2 separate regions of the Homo sapiens genome follow, and region 1 is linked to region 2. The links come from fine-mapping of genetic effects on gene expression. A gene starts in region 2. The other region holds a variant in brackets. All regions are shown on one strand. Distances are from middle to middle. Region 1 overlaps CGAS (cyclic GMP-AMP synthase). Region 2 holds the start of CGAS (cyclic GMP-AMP synthase).

Region 1 (8,335 bases), 21 kb before region 2:
TGATAAAATAAAATAAAATAAAATAAATACAACAGTCACACTAAAATCTGATTATGTTTTCAAATATATGGTTTGAAGTTTCAAAAACACATTTTTTCCCTCTCTTTCCCATTCTTAGCTTAAATATATTCTATGAATTTCTTCAACTGTATAAAGCTAACAGATATTTATACTATTTTTTTTTTTTTTGAGACAGGGTCTCACTCTGTCACCCAGGCTGGGATGCAGTGATACAATCTCGGCTCACTGCAACCTCTGACCCTCCCCTCACCCCCCTCAAGCGATCCAAAATCTTGTTTTGTTATAAAATTATTTTACTTTATTGAACTGCAAATTTAATATAAATTTTTTCTTTTCTAAAATCCACTGATTGTATCACAGAATTATTTACATTATTAAGAGTACCATAGATAATCTGCCATCTCATCTAGTTATTTAGTAGTTGACAAAATGTACTATTTATGAAACTATTTAGCCTTATCAACAATATTTCTTTTTTTTTTTCTTTTTCCTTTTTTTTTGAGATGGAGTCTCGCTCTGTTGCCCAGGCTGGAGTGCAGTGGTGTGATCTCAGCTCACCGCAACCTCTGCCTACTGGGTTCAAGCGATTCTCCTGCCTCAACCTCCTAAGTAGCTGGGATTACAGGTGCATGCCACCTCGCCCGGCTAATTTTTGCATTTTTGTAGAGACGGGGTTTCATAACGTTGGCCAGGCTGGTCTCGAACTCCTGACCTCAGGTGATCTACCTGCCTCGGCCTCCCAAAGTGCTGGGATTACAGGCGTGAGCCACTGTGCCTGGCCAACAATATAGTTTTCTTAATGCTTACTTCAAAGCCTGCATATGAGATCTTAAAGAACCTCTGTGCCTGCATGTTGGGCATTTTTGTTTTGACTTTTTAACTTTTGTGATCTTTATACTGGCCAACTTACTTTATTTATTTATTTATTTATTTATTTATTTATTTATTTAAGATGGAGTCTTGCTCTGTTGCCCAGGCTGGAGTGCAGTGGCATGATCTCAGCTTATTGCAACCTCTGTCTCCCGGGTTCAGGTGATTCTCTTGCCTCAGCCTCCTGAGTAGCGGGGATTACAGGCACGTGCCACTGCGCCCAGCTAATTTTTGTATTTTTAGTAGAGACGGGGTTTCGCCACGTAGGCCAGGCTGGTCTCGAATTCCTGACCTCAGGTGATCCACCTGCCCTGGCCTCCCAAAGTGCTGGGATTGCAGGCCTTGAGCCACCATGCCTGGCCAATACTGGCCAACTTTAGAAACTCAAATGAACAATTCCTTTTCAATCTTAGTTCTTTATGGTGTGTATGCCATCACAAAAAAAAATGGTGGGGTGCAGTGTCTCATCCCCGTACTTCCAAGACTTTGGGAGGCCAAGGCGGGAAGTTTACTTGAACCCAGGAGTTGGTGACCAGCCTGCCTGGGCAACAAAGGGAGACCACCATCTCTACCAATAAAAAAAATTTTTTTTGAGACAGGGTGTCACTATGTCACCCAGGTTGCAGTGCAGTGGCACGATCATGGCTCACTGCAGCCTTGATTTTCTGGGCTCGAGCCATTCTCCTACCTCAGCCTTCCAAGTAGCTGGGACCACAGGCACCAGTCACCATGCCTGGCTAATTTTTAAATTTTTTATGGAGGTGGGGTCTCACCATGTTGCTAGGCTGGGATTACAGGTGTGAGCCAACAGGCCCTCTACAAAATTTTTTTTTAAATTAGCCGAGCATGGTGGCATGCACCTGTAATCTCAGCTACTTGGGGGGCTGAGGTAGGATGATTGCTTGAGCCCAGGAGATCGAGGCTGTGGTGAGCCGTAATTGTGCCACTGCACTCCAGTCTGGGTGACAGAGTGAAAGTCTGTCTCAAAAAAAAAAATTACTCACTTAGTGTTGTTTTCAGTTTGGCCAATCAATCCCTAGCCGTCAACACAACCCAACTATCCCAAAGCAAGCCCAGTATCTAATAAGAGCGACCTTTTGGCCTCCTCCAATTATATGGCATTAATATCCATTACTTTTAAACAAGCAGAATACTAAGACCCATCGAATTGTCATGGCTAGTGCTCATACCCTCTCACTCTGTCCTACTGATACATCTATACAAAAACACATTCATCTGATCCAGGGTTCAGAACTACTATTCCCCGGCCTTGCCTTCTAACAACACCCTTTCCTTGGCCCTTTGGATCTAGCTTCTCTGGTTTCATACTCACACTCTCCCCAGCTCAACCCAATCCTGCCCTGCCCCCCAGACCCAACCCAGCTCAGCTCTTCAGGTCTGAGGTGTGGAGTCAACAAATAATTAAGCATACCATAGATAATCTGTCATTTAACAAAATAAGGCTGTTACCTGCAACATTTCTCTTCTTTGTTTTCACAGCACGTTTTAGATTTTCCATGATTGTTCAAAATTTCCTTTTCGATGTGAGAGAAGGATAGCCGCCATGTTTCTTCTTAATTTCAAAAAGAAAAACAAAAAAGCACTTTACCCAAAGCATCCATATCTAAACAATATTCAAGTGGTTTCCCTCATGAAAATATCCTGGGGCTGGGCATGGGGGCTCACGCCTGTAATCTCAGTACTTTGGGAGGCCGAGGAGGGTGGGTCACCTGAGGTCGGGAGTTCGAGACCAGCCTGACCAACATGGAGAAACCCATCTCTACCAAAAATACAAAAAAAAGTTATCCTGGCATGGTGGCACATGCCTGTAATCCCAGCTACTCGGGAGGCTGAGGAAGGAGAATCACTTGAACCTGGGAGGTGGAGGTTGCAGTGAGCCGAGATTGCACCATTGCACTCCAGCCTGGGCAACAAGAGCAAAACTCCATCAAAAAAAAAAAAAGAAAGAAAGAAAAAGAAAATATTCTGAAAAAATCTTAGGAGTGAATCAAAAGAAGTGAACAGATAAATAATTATGTATAAAAATAAGTACACTGAGACAAAAAATGGGCCTAACCGAAAAAAAAAGGAAGTCACAGTTTAATATAGTTAGCAATAGTAAGATGTATTACCTTTTATATATTGCTAAATTCCCTTTGTTAAATATTTTGTTTCAATAATAATTTGAATCAATTTATTCACTTTTTCTGTACCATCCTTACAGGTTTTATATTAATACAAAATGAATTGGGGACCATTTCCTTTATTCTTATTTATGAGAGTTTGTGTAAATATAGAATGATTTCACCTGGGCGCGGTGGCTCACGCCTGTAATCCCAGCACCTTGGGAGGCCAAGGTGGGCGGATCACAAGGTCGGGAGATCAAGACCATCCTGGCTAACACAGTGAAACCCTGCCTCTACCAAAAATACAAAAAATTAGCCGGGCGTGGTGGCGGGCGCCTGTAATCCCAGCTACTTGGGAGGCTGAGGCAGGAGAATGGCGCGAACCCGGGAGGTGGAGCTTGCAGTGAGC[G/C]GAGATCGCGCCACTGCACTCCAGCCTGGGCAACAGCACAAGACTCTGTCTCAAAAAAAAAAAATTTCTCCCCGAGTCTTACCATGGCTAGCTCTTTTATGCTCTGACCACCCTGTTACTTCGTGGTTTTATACTAGCAAAGTATAAGTAGTTTATAATCTGAATGATTTTTCAGAAAAATCAATCAATATAATCTGTCACATTAACAGAATAGAGGAGAAATACATGATTGTCTCAATAGATGAAGAAAATGAAGCTCTTAAAATCCTATAGTCGTTCATCATTAAAAAAACACCTCTTAGCAATCTAAGTCTAGATGGACACTTGATTCCATAAAAGGTAGATTTTAGAAAACTATAGCAACAATCATTATGTGAGGTAAAAAGTTGGAGAGAGAAATCAGAAAGAAGGCAAAACATCTGCTATCTCTATTTCTGTTCAACATGCACTGGGTGTCATAGCAAGCACAGTAAGGGAAGGAAAAACAGGGTTACACACTGGAAAGGGAGAAACAAAGCCATCATTATTCATAGGTGATGTAATTGCATATATAGGAAATACAAAAGAATCTACAATGCTGGGCATGGTGGTTCACGCCTGTAATCCCAGCACTTCAGGAGGCCGAGACAGGAGACCAGCCTGGCCAACATGGTGAAACACCATATCTACTAAAAATAGAAAGATTAGCTTAGCCAGTGTGGTGGCGTGTGCCTACACATACCACATGTATGTATGTATTTGTATATAGTCCCAGCTACTTGGGAGGCTGAGGCAGGAGAATCCCTTGAACCCGGAATGCCGAGGTTGCAGTGAGTCGAGATCACGCCACTGCACTCCAGCCTGGACAACAGAGCGAGGCTCCATCTCAAAAAAGAAAGAAAATGAAAAAAGAAAAAAAAAATTATGTAAATAAACTCACCAAATCAATTAAAAGAGTTACCAAGATTGTGGATACAAAAATCAAAGGTATTTTGATATATGGTAATAAACAAAAAATGAAATTTTGAGAAAGATGTTACTTACAATAGTATAAAAACTAGCAATTAGGCCAGGTGCAGTGGCTCATGCCTGTAATCCCAGCACCGTGGGAGGCCGAGGTGAGCAGATCACCTGAGATATGGGGTTCAAGAGCAGCCTGGCAAACATGGCGAAACTCCGTCGCTACTAAAAATACAAAAATTAGCCAGGCATTGTGGCACACAGTTGTAATCCCAGCTACTCAGGAGGCTGAGGCAGGGGAATCGCTTGAATTCAGGAGGCAGAGGTTGCAGTGAGCCAAGATCATGCCATTGCACTCCAGCCTGGATGACAGAGTGAGACTCAGTCTCAAAAAACAAAAACAAAAACAAAAAACAAACAAAAAAAAACACCCAACAGTTACCTTCTAGATCTAACTGCTAATGAAATATGGATGAGGCCAGGCACAGTGGCTCACTCCTGTAATCCCAGCACTTTGGGAGGCTGAGGCGGTGGATCACCTGAGGTCAGGAGTTCGAGACCAGCCGGACCAACATGGTGAAACCCCATTTCTACTAAAAATACAAACATTTAGCCGGGCATGGTGGCACAAGCCTGTAATCCCAGCTACTCTGGAGGCTAAGGCAGGAGAATCACTTAAACCTGGGAGGCGCAGGTTGCAGTGAGCCAAGATCGGGCGATTGCACTCCAGACTGGGCAACAAGAGCAAAACTCCCTCTCAAAAAAACAAAACAACAACAACAACAAAAAGAAATATGGATGAAAGCAGAACATGCTAAACGACACTTCTAGAATGCACTCTACAAACTCTCTTTGGGAAACTCTACAGGAAAAATAACCTGTTTCTTCAATGAGTAAATTGAAGTAAATTGAGTAAATTTTATTCAAGGAATAAAAAAGTTATGAAAGAGGAAGTTATGAGTTAAAAGAGATTTAACAGACATATTGGTCAGTCACAATGTATGAACCTTATTTGAATCCTGATCCAAACAGACTGATCCAAACATACAAAAAAAGTATGACACTTACAAGACAAGCGGAAATTTTAATACTGAATAGGTGTTTGATATTAGGGAATTATTACTTTTTTCTTTCATTTTTTGAGACAAGATCTCCCTCTATCACCCAGGCTGGAGTGCGTGAACACAGCTCACTGAAACCTCGACTTCCCAGCCTCAAGCAATCTTCTCATGTTAGCCGTTCCAATAGCGGGACCAGAAGCATACATCACCATGGCTGGCTAATTTTTGGATTTTTTTGTAGAGACGGGGTCTCTCCACCTTGCCCAGGCTGATCTCAAACTCCTGGGGTCCAGCAATCCTCCCACCTCCCAAAGTGCTGGAATTACAGCTGTGAGCCACTGTGCCCAGCTAATATAAGAAAATTATTATTTGTTTATACATTTATTTTTATTTATTTTTATTTTTTGAGATTGAGTCTCGCTCTGTTGCCCAGGCTGGAGTGCAGTGACACCATCTCAGCTCACTGCAACCTCTGCCTTCCAGGTTCAAGTGATTCTCCTGCCTCAGCCTCCTGAGTAGCTGGGATTACAGGCATGCGCCACCATGCCCGGCTAATTTTGTATTTTTAGTAGAGATGGGGTTTCACCATGTTGGCCAGGCTGGTCTCGCACTCCTGACCTCAGGTGACCCACCCGCCTTGGCCTCCCAAAGTGCTTGGATTACAGGTGTGAGCCACCGCTCCCAGTCATTGATTATTTTTTTAAGACAAGGTTTCACTTTGTCACCCAGGCTGGAGCGCAGTGACATGATCTCGGCTCACAGAAGCCTCAACCTCCTAGACTCAAGTGATTCTCCCACCTCAGCCCCCCAAATAGCTGGGACAACAGGTGCATATTACCACACCCAGCTAATTTATTTTGTATTTTTTGAAGAGACAGGGTTTTGTCACGTGGCCCAGGCTTGAACTCCTGGGCTCAAGTGATCCACCCACCTCAGCCTCCCAAAATGCTGGTATTACAAGCATGAGCCAACACTCCTGGCCCAGTCTCCTTTGGTACTGGTTTAAAATTTTCATAATAAAAAGTTTTGGCCAGGCGCGGTGGCTCACGCCTGTCATCCCAGTACTTTGGGAGGCCGAGGTGAGCAGATCACCTGAGGTCAGGAGTTTGAGAGCAGCCTGGACAACATGGTGAAACCCTATCTCTACTAAAAATACAAAAACTAGCCAGACACGGTGGTGGGCACCTGTAATCCCAGCTACTCAGGAGGCTGAGGCAGGAGAATCGCTTGAACCCAGGAGGTGGAGGGTGCAGTGAGCCGAGATCGCACCACTGCACTCCAGCCTGGGTGACAGAGCGAGACTCCATCTCAAAATAAATAAATAAATAAATAGTTTTAAAATAGATCAATTACCTATGAATAAATTAACAAAAGATATACAAAACCTCTGCAGAGAAAATGCTAATGAATGAAGCTGGGAAGTATTAGAGGAGATGTAAATAAGTGGATTGGGAGACTCAATATTGTTAACATATCAACTCTCTCCCATGTTTTTTTTTTTTAATACAGACAGTGTCTTGTTATGTTGCCCAGGCTGGAGTGCAGTGGCAAGATCATAGCTCACTGTAACCTCGAACTCCTGAGCTTAAGTGATTCTCTTGCGTAACTAAGACTACAAGCTACAAGTGCACACCACCACGCCTGGCTAATTTTTAAAAAGTTTTTATAGAGATGAAGACTCACAACTCTCTATAAAAACTTTTATAGAGAGTTTTTTTTTTTTAATTTTTTTTTGAGACGGAGTCTCTCTCTGTCACCAGGCTGGAGTGCAATGGCGTGATCTTGGCTCACTGCAACCTCTGCCTCCTGGGTTCAAGCGATTCTCCTGCCTCAGCCTCCCGAGTAGCTAGGACTACAGGCACGTGCCACCATGCCCAGCTAATTTTTGTATTTTTAGTAGAAATGGGGTCTTACCATGTTGGCCAGGATGGTCTCGATCTCTTGACCTCGTAATCCACTCACCTTGGCCTTCCAAAGTGCTGGGATTACAGGCGTGAGCCACCACGCCTGGCTAGAGTTTTTACACAGTGTTGTCCAAGATGGTCTTGAACCCCTCACCTAAAGCAACTCTCCTTCCTCAGCCTTCTGAAGTGCTGGAATTACAGGCATAAGTCATCATTCCTGGCCCCAAATTTATCTATAGATTCAACATTATCTCAATCAAAATTCCAAAAAGTATTTTGTGGAATCTGAAAAGCTGATTTCAAAATTTATATGAGAATGTAAAGGGTCAAGACTCTCTCAGACACCCTTGGAGAAAAACGAAGTGGTAGAACTTGCCCTAAAAGATATTGAGACTAATTATAAAGCTACATTATGTACAACAACATGGTACAAAGATAGACAAAGATTTTAATGGGACAGAATAAAGAGTTCAGGGATAGCTACACAATACGGTTGGCCCTCTGTATCTGAGGGTTTCACATCTGAGAATTCAACCAATCGTGAATTGAAACCCACAGATATGGAGGGCCAACTGTATTATATCATTTTATGTAAGGGATTTGAGCATCTGTGGACTTCGGTGTCTGCAGGGTACCCTGGAGCCAATCCTGAGGGTCAACTGTACATGACTGTAAAGAAAGGTGGCACGTACCGTTGATAAAATTTGATAAGGATGGCACTTTGCCTCTGTGACCTTCCTCCCCCAAACCAATAACTCTGATCTAATCATAAGAAACATAATAAAGAAATCTCAAGTAAAGGACATTCTACAAAATACCTAACTAGTACTCCTCAAAACTGTTAAAACCAAAAAACTGTCACAGTCAAGAGTAGCTTAAGGAGACATGACAACTAAATGCAATATGGTATCCTAAATGGGATCTTGGAACAGTAAAAGGACATTAAGAAAAACTAAGGAAATCTGGATAAAGTATATAATTTTTTTTTTTAATGGAGTCTCGCTG
Region 2 (8,277 bases):
TGTAGTTTTAGTAGAGACAGGGTTTTGCCATGTTGACCAGGCTGGTCTCAAACTCCTGACCTCAAGTGATCTGCCTGCCTCTACTCCCAAAGTGCTGGGATTATAGGCGTGAGCCACCATGCCTGGCCAAAGTTTTCAATTTTTATTTTTTAGAGATGGGGTCTCTAGGCTGGAGTACAGTGGCTACTCACAGATAGATCATAGTGTACTGCAGCCTCAAACTCCTGACTTGATGTGATTCTCCCACCTCGGCCTCCCAAATAGCTGGGACTATCAGAATGCACCAATGGACCTAGGTTTGATATTTTTGATGATATTCTAAATGGTATTTTCATTTTGTTTTTAATCTTGTTAGTATATTGAAATATTTTTATTTTTGTTTATTGACTTTGCAACCAGCAATTTTGCTAATTTACTAATTATTTCCAACAGTTTATATGTGAAGCCAATCAAGTCATCTACACATAACGATTTCATCACTCTTTTTCCCATCTTATGCCTTTATTTTCCTTGTCTTGCTGCATCAGCTGTATGTATTCCTTTACGTTCTTTTTGTTGTTGTTCAACATTATTTATGTAATTCATTTTCACTGTTCATGTTGCTGTAGTTTGTTCCTTTTCTTTACCAGTTAATATACCATTACTTAAAACCACTGGCCGGGCACAGTGGCTCACGCCTGTAATCCCAGTACTTTGGGAGGCTGAGACGGGTGGATCACCTGAGGTCAGGAGTTTGAGACCAGCCTTACCAACATGGAGAAACCCCATCTCTACTAAAAACACAAAAAATTAGCCAGGCATGGTGGTGCATTCCTGTAATCCCAGCTACTCGGGAGGCTGAGGCAGGAGAATCGCTTGAACCTGGGAGGCAGAGGTTGCAGTGAGCTGAGGCCACCCACGCCATTGTACTCCAGCCCAGGCAACAAGAGTGAAACTCTGTCTCAAAACAAAACAAAACAAAAAACAAACAAACAAAAAAAACTACAATTAATTGATTTCTATGTAACCTTTTCACTGAGTCCAAACTATATAAATAGTAAAGTACATTAACACTTAGAATGAAAAGAACATATGGACTGACAATTCTACAGGGAATTTCTACAAGAAACTTCCCATGTATTTTCGAGATTTTTTTTTACCTAGAATTTGTAGTCCCAGGTAGCTGGGACTACCTGTGTGTGCCACCACATCCAGTTAATTTTTAACTTATTTTTGGTAGAGCTGGGGTCTCACTATGTTGTCCAGGCTGGACTCAAACTCCCGCCTCAGCCTCCCATGGTGCTAGGATCACAGGCATGAGTCCACTGTACCTGGCCCACATATATCTCATAATCAGTAATAGAAAAAGTTTTAGGCTGGGTGTAGTGGCTCACGCCTGTAATCCCAGCACTTTGAAAGGCTGATGCAGGTGGATCACTTGAGGTCAGGAGTTCGAGACCAGCCTGGCCAACATGCTGAAACCTTATCTCTACTAAAAATACAAAATTAGCCAGGTGAGGTGACGCCCGCCTGTAATCCCAGTTACTCTGGAGGCTGAGGCAGGAGACTCACTTGAACCCGGGAGGCGGAGGTTACAGTGAGCCAAGATCACATCACTGCACTCCACCCTGGGTGACAGAGCAAGACTCCATCCCCAAAAAAAAAGAAAAAAGAAAAAGAAAAAAAGAAAAAGTTTTAGATAAAACAAATTTCACTGGATTTCTTTTCATTGGCATAATTTTTAAAAACAAAGTGGTTCTGGGCTGGGCATGGTGGCTCCCACCTGTAATCCCAGCACTTTGGGAGGCCAAGGCGGGAAGATCATGAGGTCAGGAGATAGAGACCAGCCTGGCTAACACGGTGAAACCCCGTCTCTACTAAAAATACAAAAATTAGCTGGGCATGGTGGCGGGCGCCTGTAGTCCCAGCTACTTGGGAGGCTGAGGCAGGAGAATGGTGTGAACCCAGTAGGCAGGGCTTGCAGTGAGCCGAGATCGCGCCACTGCACTCCAGCCTGGGTGACAGAGTGAGACTCTGTCTCAAACACACACACACACACACACACACACACACACAAAGTGGTTCTGAATGGAGACTGTCTTCTGAATGTCTTGTTCTCTAATTCTAACTAGTAACTTTCTTTTTCCTTTGGACCCGCCATATACAGTAATTGAACTGAATTGATACTTACATAATAAGAATCATGCTCAATCAGAGACATATCTGATGCTGAAAAGTAAATTAGTTAATTAAAAAGAATCATGCTCAAGACACAGTCTGGGCTGGGTGCCGTGGCTCAAGCCTGTAATCCCAGCACTTAGGGAGGCCGAGGCAGGTGGATCATCTGAGGTCAGAGTTCGAGACCAGCCTGGCCAACATGGTGAAACCCCGTCTCTACTAAAAATACATAAATTAGCCGGGAGTGGGGGCAGGCACCTGTAATCCCTGCTATTTGGAAGGCTGAAGCAGGAGAATCGCTTGAACCTGGAAGCCGGAGGTTGCAGCGAAACCTAGATGGCACCACTGCACTACAGCCTGGGCAACAAGAGTGAAACTCCATCAAAAAAAGAAGAAAGAAGAAAGAAAAGAAAGAAAGAACAAAATAAAGAGAGAGAGAGAGAGAGGAAGAGAGGGAGGGAGGAAAAGAGAGAGACAGAGAGATAGAGAGAAGAGAAGAGAAGAGAAAAAAGAAGAGAAAAGAAGCCGGGTGTGGTGGCTCACGCCTGTAATCCCAGCACTTTGGGAGGCTGAGGCTGGCAGATCACCTGAGGTCGGGAGTTCTAGACCAGCCTGACCAACATGGAGAAAGCCCGTCTCTACTAAAAATACAAAATTAGCCAGGGTGGAGGCTCATGCTTGTAATCCCATCTACTCAGGAGGCTGAGACAGGAGAATCGCTTGAACCTGGGAGGTGGAGGTTGAGGTGAGCTGAGATCGCGCCATTGCACTCCAGCCTGGGTAACAAGAGCGAAACTCCGTCTCAAAAAAAAAAAAAAGAAAGAAAGAAAGAAAAAGAAAAAGAAACAAATCTCTTGCTGGGCAAGAAACACGCTCCAGTCAGGAACCTGCTTCTAAACTTTCAATTTACACAGGAATGATTAATGACTCAATCACCCACAAGCAAATGGAGCTGTGTAATACACACGTCGAAGCAATTATACGGAATGTGTATCTAGAAAGCGTTTTAGTATCTGTAGGAGATATTCTTATTTGTTTGTTTAACATTATACTGTAAGCTTCCCATGATTTCTGTGTAAGAAACTGGGGACAGACGGCCGGGCGCGGTAGCTCACGCCTGTAATCCCAGCACTTTGAGAGGCCGAGACGAGCGAATCAAGAGGTCAGGAGATCGAGACCATCCTGGCTAACACGGTGAAACACCGTCTCTACTAAAAATACAAAAAAAATTAGCCGGGCATGGTGGCGGGCGCCTGTAGTCCCAGCTACTCGGGAAGCTGAGGCAGGAGAATGGCGTGAACCCGGGAGGCGGAGCTTGCAGTGAGCCGAGATAGCGCCACTGCACTCCAGCCTGGGGGACGCAGCGAGACTCCGCCTCAAAAAAAAAAAAAAAGAAAAGAAAAGAAAAAAGAAAAAAAAGAAATTGGGGTCAGACGGGATAGCAGGAGAGGGGGCAGGGAGGAAGAGGGGGAGAGAAACTGAAGATCTTTTTTTCTATGGAGTAAGAGGTCTTCCTCATAGGAAAAAGTCTACGTGGAATTTTTAACAGACCACTTCAAATTATCCAAGTCAATATCTGACTCGGGACCTCAGGTCCACACCATCAAACACTGCCCTGTTACGGAAACTCGATACATGTCGGCTTGCATGAATGAACCCATACATTTGAATTCCCCCGGGAGCAGTGTCTTGAAATTAGCCAGCAATCAGTACCGGTTGGTTGTCTGATCGTTGGATGTGTAGATGAATAAACGAACGGTTTGTCGTTTTACTTAGACTAGGCTACCGAAAAACATGCAAAAGTCTAAGTTACTTCCGAAGGGAAGTGAGGGGCGCGACCCGGGGAAGGTAGGGACTGCGGATTGCGGAAGGCCGAGCAGCGGGGCTCGGCGGGAGGGCGCCAAGCAGCTCACCTTCACGTGCTCATAGTAGCTCCCGGTGTTCAGCAGCCCGACGCCTCTGAACGCGGAGTCGCACTTCAGTCTGAGCAGCAGGTGGTCCACAACCCCTTTCACCATCCCCGCCGCCGTGGAGATATCATCGCGGCTGAGCTTCAACTTCTCCAAAACCGCCCGGAGCTTCGAGGCCCCAGGCGCCGCATCCCTCCGTACGAGAATGGGGGCCGAGACCGGCAGGCCGGGGCTGGGCACGTCCCAGGGCCCGGGCGGAGGTCTTGGCTTCGTGGAGCAGCGCGCGCCCCTCTGGCGGCAAGAACCAGCCCTGGAAAGAGCCGGCTCCCGAGCCGCAGGAGGCTCCAGCCCCTCTGCCCCAGGGGCGCTGGTGGCGTCAGACGGCTGCGTGTCCTGGGCGCGCTGAGGGGCCTTTTTGGCGCGGGCCCCAGTTGCGCGGACGGGCGGCCTCTCCTGGGTGTCCGGGGCGCTCTTTTTCTGCCGGGATCCCGACTTCCTGGCGGGGCCGAACTTTCCCGCCTTAGGCAGGGCGGCCTCGGGGGCAGCCGGAGACTCGGTGGGATCCATCGGGGCGCCCCTGGCATTCCGTGCGGAAGCCTTGGGGGCAGTGGCTCCGGCCTCGGAAGCTCTCTGCATGGCCTTTCCGTGCCAAGGCTGCATGGCTGGCGCTTTCTGTTCCCCGAAAGAAGAATCCGTTTCAGGAAAAGGCCGCAAGAGGAAGAGCCAGCAGCAGCTGTTGGAAACCAAGCACTACTGGCGGGCACACAAGAGTCTGCGACCCGAAGGGGAACCCCAGGCTGGGAAGTCGCTGGGAGCCACGCCCATGCCGCGAAGAGGCTGGCCGCGGCCTTTCCTGAGGCTACAAAAGTCTCGAAGTTTCTAACTCTCCAGGCAATCCGTGCCCCTGTCTTAAGAAGATGAGGTAGGGCCGGGCGCGGTGGCTCACGCCTGTAACCTCAGCATCCGAGAGGCCGAGGCAGGCGGGTCGCTTGAGCTCAGGAGTTTGAGACCAGCCTGGGCAACCCAGCAAGACCTGGTCTTTCTTATAATTAAATATATGTGTGTGTGTGTGTTGCCTGGGCACACTGACTCACGCCTGTAATCCCAGCAATCTGGGAGACCGAGGTGGGCGGATCACCTGAGGTCAGGAGTTCAAGACCAGCCTGGCCAACAAGGCGAAAGAAACCCCGTCTCTACTAAAAAATACAAATATTAGCTAGGCGTGGTGGCGGGCACCTGTAATCCCAGCTACTCGGGAGGCTGAGGCTGGAGAATCACTTGAACCCGGGAGGCGGAGGTTGCAGTGAGCTGAGACGTGCCACTTCACTCCAGCCTGGGCGACAGAGCGAGACTCTGTCTCAAAAAAGAAAAAGAGGCCAGGCGTGGTGGCTCACGCCTGTAATCTCAGCAGTTTGGGAGGCCGAGGCGGGCGGATCACGAGGCCAAGACATCGAGACCTTCCTGGCCAACATGGTGAAACCCCGTCTCTACTAAAAATACAAAAAATTAGCCGGGCTTGGTGGCGCCTGTAGTCCCATCTACTCGGGAGGCCGAGACAGAGAACTGCTTGAACCCGGGAGGCAGAGGTTGCAGTGAGCCGAGATCGCGCCACTGCACTCCAGCCTGGGCAACAGAAAAAGAGTCCATCACAAAACAAAACAAAACAAAACAAAAACATTGACAGAGAAACTTTTCTCTTTCAAGTGAAAGTTTTTTTAAATTTAATTTTGGTTTGAGTTAGGGGGGCGCAATCTCGGCTCACTGCAACCTCAGCCACCAGGGCTCAAGCGATCCTCCCACCTCAGCATCCTGAGTAGCTGTTACTACAGGTGCGGACACCATGCCCAGCTTTTTCTTTTCTTTTTAATTTTTTTGTATACATGGGGAGGTCTCACTATGTTGCCCAGGCTGGTCTCGAACTCCTAGACTCAAGCGATTCTCCCTCCTCAACCTCCCAAAGTGTTGGGATTGTAGGCATGAGCCACTGTGCCCTGCCACAGAAACTTTTTCTTTTCTTTTTTTTCTTTTTCTTTTCTTTCTTTCTTTCTTTTTTTTTTTTTTTTTTTTTGAGACAGAATTTCGCTCTTGTCACCCAGGCCGAAGTGCAATGGTGCGATCTTGGCTCACTGCAACCTCTGCCTCCTGGGTTCAAGCAATTCTCCTACCTCAGCCTCCCGGGTAGCTGGGATTACAGACGCCCGCCACCACGCCCGGCTAATTTTTCGTATTTTTAGTAGAGACGGGGTTTCGCTATGTTGGCCAGGCTGCTCTCAAACTGCTGACCTCAAGTGATCCACCCGCCTCGGCCTCCCAAAGTGCTGCGATTACAGGCGTGAGCCACGGCGCCTGGCCAGAAACTTTTCCCTTTTTTTTTTTTTTTTTCCTGAGATGGAGTCTCATTCTGTCCCCTAGGCTGGAGTGCAGTGGCACGATCTCGGCTCACTGTAACCTCTGCCTCCCGGATTCAAGCGATTCTCCTGCCTCAGCCTCCGAAGTAGCTGGGACTACAGGTGTGCGCCGCCATGCCCGGCTAATTTTTGTATTTTTAGTAGAAAGGAGTTTCACCATATTGGCCAGGCTGGTCTGGGACTCCTTATCTCGTGATCCACCTGCCTCGGCCTCCCAAACTGTTGGGATTACGGGCATGAGCCTCAGCGCCCGGCCAACTTTTTCAATGTAAATTTAAATAGGGTTTTTTAAAAATCAATAAGAAATAAAATAATAATTTTTAAAAAGAAAAAAATTAATAACAAATGAAAAATACTTTGAAAAAAGAAAAAAATAAGAAAGAGAAAATATTCAACTTTTACAAGATGGAATGAAACAAAGATTGACTGCAATTGGAGTAAATACTTCTATTTGACATTTTTTAAAAAGCACAGAAAATCTTTAAAATGTTGTGTAAAGTTTCTGCCTGGTGCGGTGACTCACGCCTATAATCCCGGCACTTTGGAAGGCGAAGGTGGGTGGATCACTTGAGGTCAGGAGTTCAAGACCAGCCTGTCCAGCATGGTGAAAACCCATCTCTACTAAAAATACAAAAATTAGCCAGGTGTGGTGGGCCATGCTTGTAAACCCAGCTACTGGGGAGGCTGAGACGGGAGAATTGCTTGAATCGGGAAAGCGGAGGTGGTAATGAGCTGAGATCAGACCACTGCACTCCATCCTGGGCGACAGGGCAAATGACTCTGTCTCAGGGGGAAAAAAAGTTGTGTAAAGTTCTCTCTTTTTATTTTATTTTATTTTATTCATTTTTGAGACGGAGTTTTGCTCTTGTTGCCCAGGCTGGAGTGCAATGGTACAATCTCAGCTCACCACACCCTCCGCCTCCCGGGTTCAAGAGATTCTCGTGACTCAGCCTCTTGCGCAGCTGGGACTACAGGCGTGCCCCACCATGCCCAGCTAATTTTTGTATGGTTTTGTAGAAATGTGGTTTCACCATGTTGCCCAGGCTGGTCCCCAACAAGCTATCTGCCCGCCTCAGCCTCCCAAAGTGCTGTTACTGGCATGAGCCACTGCACCGGACCTGGCATTTACATTTTAAATCATTCATACTGCTTCAGCTGTTGTGATTCTAGAGTATCTCAATACAGGCTTTCAAATATCTTTTTTTTTTTTTCGAGATGGAGTTTCACTTTTGTTGTCCAGGCTGGAGTGCAATGGTGCTATCTCGGCTCTCTGTAACCTCCGCCTCCTGGGTTCAAGCGATTCTCCTGCCTCAACCTCCTGAGTAGCTGGGATTATAGGCGCCTGCCACCACACCCAGCTAATTTTTTTACCTTTTTAGTAGAGACGGGGTTTCACCATGTTGACCAGGCTGGTCTCGAACTCCTGACCTCAGGTGATCTGCCCCCTTTGGCCTCCCAAAGTGTTGGGATTACAGGCGTGAGCCACCTTGCCTGGCCTTCAAGTATCTATTTCTAAAGCCCCTGATAGAAATGCATATTAGAGGTCAGGCGCAGTGGCTCATGCCTATAATCCCAGCACTTCAGGAGCCCTAGATCTTCTGAGATCAGGAGTTCAAGACCAGCCTGGCCTACATGATGAAACTTTGTCTCTACTAAAAATACAAAAAATTAGCCGGGTGTGATGGCACATGTCTGTGATCCCAGTTACTCGGGAGGCTGAGGCAGGAGAATAGCTTGAACCCAGGAGGCAGAGGTTGCAGTGAGTGAGATCCTGCCACTGCACTCCAGCCTGGGCAACAGAA

What was found. PIP is the estimated chance that this variant, and not a neighbour inherited with it, causes the effect.
Region 1: its variant is fine-mapped to the expression of CGAS in whole blood (INTERVAL, PIP 0.99).

The regions. Positions count from the first base shown.
Region 1 is chr6:73,426,348-73,434,682 of GRCh38, forward strand. It overlaps CGAS (cyclic GMP-AMP synthase), which reads right to left. Exons shown (of 5, transcript NM_138441.3): 4 at 2,362-2,464. Among named protein-coding and RNA genes, the nearest start is that of CGAS, 22 kb to the right of the region's middle. The variant G/C (reference allele first, on the strand shown) is at 3,427.
Region 2 is chr6:73,447,455-73,455,731 of GRCh38, forward strand. CGAS (cyclic GMP-AMP synthase) reads right to left here and starts at 4,843. Exons shown (of 5, transcript NM_138441.3): 1 at 4,071-4,843. The coding sequence starts at 4,727. RefSeq lists a silencer at 4,265-4,474 and an enhancer at 4,645-5,124.